Linked DNA regions of Homo sapiens: region 1 is linked to region 2. A link means that fine-mapping ties the variant in region 2 to the expression of a gene that starts in the linked region. Tissue or cell type: whole blood. Region 2 holds a variant in brackets; the other region holds the start of a gene. All regions are shown on one strand. Distances are between the middles of the regions.

What was found. PIP is the estimated chance that this variant, and not a neighbour inherited with it, causes the effect.
Region 1: it holds the start of AHRR, and the variant in region 2 is fine-mapped to the expression of AHRR in whole blood (TOPMed, PIP above 0.99).

Annotation. Positions count from the first base shown.
Region 1 is chr5:320,076-322,728 of GRCh38, reverse strand. AHRR (aryl hydrocarbon receptor repressor) reads right to left here and starts at 1,015. Exons shown (of 11, transcript NM_001377236.1): 1 at 910-1,015. All of the region lies in intron 3 of PDCD6-AHRR (PDCD6-AHRR readthrough (NMD candidate)), which reads right to left. RefSeq lists enhancers at 4-123, 212-779 and silencers at 364-423, 434-813, 904-1,393, 1,544-1,803.
Region 2 is chr5:106,400-109,234 of GRCh38, reverse strand. All of the region lies in intron 1 of PLEKHG4B (pleckstrin homology and RhoGEF domain containing G4B), which reads right to left. Among named protein-coding and RNA genes, the nearest start is that of PLEKHG4B, 16 kb to the right of the region's middle. The variant G/A (reference allele first, on the strand shown) is at 1,372.

The DNA of each region.
Region 1 (2,653 bases), 210 kb before region 2:
GGCACACTCGGCCCGAGTCCAAACGCCGCCAGTCACTTGCTCTGAGAGGCTGGATGAGCGACCTACCTTGATGTCCTCGTTCGTAAAATGGGTGACGGTTGCCAGGCCGGGGCGGCTGTGAGGCCCCGTGGGGGTGGCGTTTGGAGAACGCGCGCACACGCCCACCCTTCTGCAAGAACCCCGCAGACGAGAGCCTGTGCGCGCGCACAGGAGGCCCAGGGAGGAAGCCCCTCCCCGCCTGCCCTTGCCATCCCGGAGGCCACAGCCGGACAGGCCCGTGGGACAGGCCCGTGGGACGCTTCTGCACAAGGTCTCTGACCTCCGGCCTCGCAGAAGAGGTCAGAGGGTGGCCCCTGCCTGTCACGCGCCCATGGCGACCCCTCCCCAGAAGGGGTCCCAGCGTGGACTCCAGGCGCCACATCGCTCTCTCAGGGCATCCGGTCTGGGAATTCTGGCCGCTCAAAATAAGACTTCAGCGCTACTGGGTGCTACTGAAACCAAGCCTGAACATGGGCCTTTCCCGGGGGTGAGGCCCCCCGGACCTGGCGCCCTCGGCCCGACAGCGGGGCCCCGCTCCGCCGCCCGCACCCGCCCAGCCCCAGGGAGCGCGGCCCGCACGGAACGCCCGGGGAGTGAAGGCTCAGAACACTCTCGAGGGGACGCTGAGGACCACGAACCGTGGACGCGCCGCGGCTTCCCTCCGAGGTCCGAGTTTTAAGTGAGACCAGCCAGCCGCACCCCAGAGTGTCCGCCCCGTCCCGGGGCCGCCGGGCCTGGCGACGCGAGGATGCGGCGTGAGGAGGGTCCCGACGCCGGCGCCCGTCCCTCAGCCCCACACCCGGGAGCGCATCCCGTCTCCACCGCGGGCGGCACGCGGCGGGGGCCTGCGGGGGCGCCCAGGACACTTACCCAGGGCCTGCGGGGCGCGGAGGCTCAGGCACACCCGCGGGGCAGCGCGCCCTGGCCAGGAGCTGTGGCGGCGGGTGCCGGCGCTCGCATCCCGGGAACCCGCGGCGGCTCCAGGGACTGCCCCACCCCGGCACGCGAGCCGCCCGCCCCGCCCCGCAGCATCCAGGGCCGGGAGGCGGCAGAGGGCGCCCGCGGGTCCGGCTGTCTCGGGTCCGGCTGCCCCAGCTGCCCTGGCGAACCGGAGACGCCATCCGGTTCCCCTGGGGTCCGCCCTGCGCCCTTCGCGTCCCAGTGATCCCCCGGAGTCTCCGTGCCCCGAGGCGGGGGTCGCGCGCTGAGCCCCTCCAGGCCCTGCGTTCCCCCTGGGGTCTGTGTGCGCCCAGGGTCCCCCGGTTCTCCCTGCGCCCCCGTCCCCTCCCCAGCGCTCGCGGCCGGCTGTGCTGAGCTGCCGGCCCTAGAGCCGGGCGGTGTAGACCCGAACAGGTAAAGTGAGGAGAGCGTGTGCCCCCTCGCCTGCCCCATGAGGTCGTTTCGAAAATGTAAAAGGAGTCATGGTTTTTGGCGAATTATAGAGAATATTAAGATGCTTTTGGATCCTGAGCTTCCCAGGAAGCGGACGCGCGCCAGGCACGGCAGGGTCGTCCGTGCGACGTTCTTCGTCCTGGGCATTTCAGGGTCCCACGCGGCAGGTGTGCGGCCCTGGGTGCCCCTGCCCCGCCCACCCCGCCGGTCGGCACCCGGGACCGCGCGGCCGAGAGCAGGGTCCTGCCTGCAGGTCCTTAGGGCTCACCCCGCGCCCTCTGCGCGCCCGCCGGCCCCTCCGACCTCGGGCTGCGCCTTCTCCTTCCCCCTCCCGGTGGTCCTTGGCCCCCTCTAGTCCTCCGTCCGGGCGCGCAGGCCCTGGCTGAATTCCCTGTACCCTCAGGGGATCCCTGGGGACACCTCAGCCTGGCCTCGCACCCTGACGTCTCCACAGACCCTGGCCGGCTTCCACCCGTTCTCGCCCTCGCTGGGGCCGGCCATGGAGTCGGTGGTCCCTGGAGTCCGCTCCTCAGCATCCGCGGTCCTCATCCCAGCCGGGGGAACCGCGCCCTCTTCATCCCGCAAGGTCGGTTTTCAGCAACGCGGCCGAGGCTGTCACTGGCGCCCCCAGGTTCTCAGTCAAACCCCGTCTCCCTGACGCCCCCAACCCGCCCCGCGCCTCCTGCTGTTCTCTGAATAAGGCGTGCGGGCCTTGGGGCCTTTGCACTCGCTGTCTGCTGTCGGCTCAGGAAAAGTCTCTTTTCCAGACACAGCTCCCAAGGTGGGGTGGGCGCAGCTGAGAAGCCCACCCTGCCCCCAAGTGGCCACCGCCCCTCCCCGGGTGTAGCTCCTGCAGGGCAGCCCAGAATTGCTGAGTTCTGCCGCTCTGTCCCCAGGGGTCACCAAGTCGGCTCTGCTCACCTCTGGTTCCTGTCGAATAGCAGAGGCTCAAAAATGTGAGCTGAGTAAATGGGCTTTTTTGGGACAGAGTCTTGCTTTGTCACCCAGGCCTGAGAGCAGTGGTGCGATCTCAGTTCACTGCAGCCTCTGCCTCCAGGGCTCAAGCGATTCTCGTGCCTCAGCCTCCCAAGTAGCTGGGATTACAGTCGCGCGCCACCACACCTGGCTAATTTTTTTTTTTTTTTAAGTAGATAGTGGTTTTGCCATCTTGGCCAGGCTGGTCTCGAACTCCTGACCTCAGGTGATCCACCCACCTCGGCTT
Region 2 (2,835 bases):
TATTTTCAGTAGAGATGGGGTTTCACCATGTTGGCCAGGCTGGTCTCAAACTCTGACCTCCTGATTTCCCTGCAAAAAGCAAGACATCCGTGGGCAGCAGACACCCGTGGCTCCTTCAAGCAGGGCCCTGGGGACAGCGGGGGACCCACACTGTCCCTGCTCTGCCCCAGTTCCCATCAATGGCCACTTTCTTAGCACAGCAGGGTGGTGAATGAGAAAGCCAGGTGTGAAACCCACACCCCCAGGAGGCTCGCTCTGGGCTGCCACCTGGTCACAGCCATTCAGGCCCATCAGGACCCAGTGATGGCTCCTGGCGTCTGGCCCAGGTACCCGTGCCCATCTCTGGTTTCCTGTCTGTGCAGTCAGAAACCACCATTGAATCAAAACCTGTCTAGGAAGCCTCGTCCCAAACAGGGCTTGGTGTGCAGGTCGGTCTGTCTACACCAGCCATCTGCACCCAGTCTGTCTACACCAGCCATCTGCACCCAGTCTGTCTACACCCAGCCATCTGCACCCAGTCTGTCTACACCAGCCATCTGCACTCAGTCTACACCAGCCATCTGCACCCAGTCTGTCTACACCCAGCCATCTGCACCCAGTCTGTCTACACCAGCCATCTGCACCCAGTCTGTCTACACCAGCCATCTGCACCCAGTCTGTCTACACCCAGCCATCTGCACCCAGTCTGTCTACACCAGCCATCTGCACCCAGTCTGTCTACACCAGCCATCTGCACCGTCTGTCTACACCAGCCATCTGCACCCAGTCTGTCTACACCAGCCCTGCTTTCCACTCAGGCTTCTGTGTATTTTGGATTCTTGACCCTCTCCGCTGGAGATGCTGAAGACGCTTCTAAGGCTAAAAGTTCCGTTGGCCCGAAGTTGGTACAACAGGGTGCCAGGAAGGAAGGACGGCAAGGGGGAAGGAAGGGAGTGTGCCTTGCCTCTCTGGGTTTCTGTTCTACGTTCTTTGAAGAGTTCAGCAATCACCAAAAGCCACATCATCCCTGGTTCCTAATGCACTGACTTTATCACCTGAGTAGATTTAGAGAGATTCCCAGGTCCTGGTGAAAAGCTTCACCCAGCAAATGTCTTACTCCCCTGAAATGGTTTTCCGATTCCCATAACCAACCCAATCCACAAGGGAAGCCCACTGGAGACGCAGGACCTGGTGGCAGGGGATGGCTGGGTGCTCCAGAGTCTGGGGTCAAGCTGGTAGTCTCTGTTTCGAGGCCTCCTCTCTTCTAATTCCCTGAGCCTATGTGGTTACTGTGCCAGAAAGGTGCTGCTCCACTCCACCACACTCTAATTCCTATATCCCTGAAGCCCAGGTATACAAACCTGGCACACCTGGACCCAAGCTGGTGCCCCA[G/A]CCCCACCCGGATCACTGCATTGGGAGCTAGTGGGCCAGGTGGTGATGCTAGCTGCTCTCTGATGAGCCCCACCGAGGTCCAGCCAGAGCTCCTGGCCACACCAGGGCAAGTGCAGAGAAAGCCTTGGCTCAGTTCCCCTCCTCACTGACACATGCCTACCAAGCCCCAGCCCAGGGCAACCCCCGTCCTCCAGGGACTCACAGTTCAGGGTGAGGCCAGACCCAGGGCGGGGATGGGCAGGTGGGATACCAGAGTGAGCCCTCAGCAGCGCCCTGAGTCTAGGCCAGCTTCCCGGAAGAAGAGGCATCTGAGCAGCACCTGAGGGTAAGAAGGTCTCGCTGCATGAGCAGATGGGTAAGGGAGCACCCAAGACTCTCCCAGGTGAACCTTCAGGCCTAGCAGCCCCTTCTTCCTCCTAGGAAGGCCAGGGCTGTCCAGGCTTGCTGGAGGCCTCAGGGGCAACGTCGTGCAACTTACAATGGCAGGACAGGGTGGAGCCAGGGCCTGGGTGCCCAGGATGGGGCCCAGAGCAGAGGAGAGCAGTGGATCCCAGAAGGGCCAAGCATGGGGTCTCTGGGGTCCAGGGTCCCTGACAGCAAACATCAAGTAGGCCCTGTCCAGTGAGCCCCAGGGGCTGTGACTGATGGGTACATGTGGCCGCCTCAGCAGGGCTGGCACCTCCTCCAGCAGGCAGAGATGGGCAGGACCTGGAGCAGCTTTACAGTTGGCTGAGCATTAATAATGAGCCATTATGCCTAACCCTAAAGCCCGAGAGAGGTGGGTCTACATCCACAAGTCCTGCTGGGGCAGCCCCTGAAGCTGCAGATTCCAGCCTCTTCCCATGTCTGCACTGAGCAGGCCTTGCCGGGAAAAGAATCGGATAAGAACTGCATCCTGCATATGAGTCTCCACATGTGGGCACACATACAGTACCTAGACACCTGCGTGCGTGCACACACACGTACATACACGAGAACTGCGCCCTGCACCTCATCTCTCACCACACACACGTGCACACACACACACAGAAGCTGCACGTGGCACCTCAATATCCCTGTGGGCACACACGTGCACACAGAACTCAGAAACTGCAGCTACACTCCTCCTGTCCCTGCCTGTGCAGCCACCCTGGGCTCCGGCTCTCACGTCAACACCTACGTCTGCTCTCAGCCCTCACCCTGCTGCAGGGGGAGCCACTCGTAAATTCAGCAATGCATGGAGCTTGCAGAGTGGGGTCCTGACAAAAACCTCTAACTGAAATTTGTTTCAGGTTTTGAAATGTGAGCACGCTGTGGACAATTACAAAGTGCAGTTCTACATGTTCGTTAAATCGGCCACCAAGTACTGTTGGCAGATTTTTCTGCCAAACTAAGAACAAAATACCTTGAAATAAATAAATATGCAAGTATTTTAATATAACTCTGCATTTAGGAAGGTAATTTCTATCATGAAATCTAAACAGT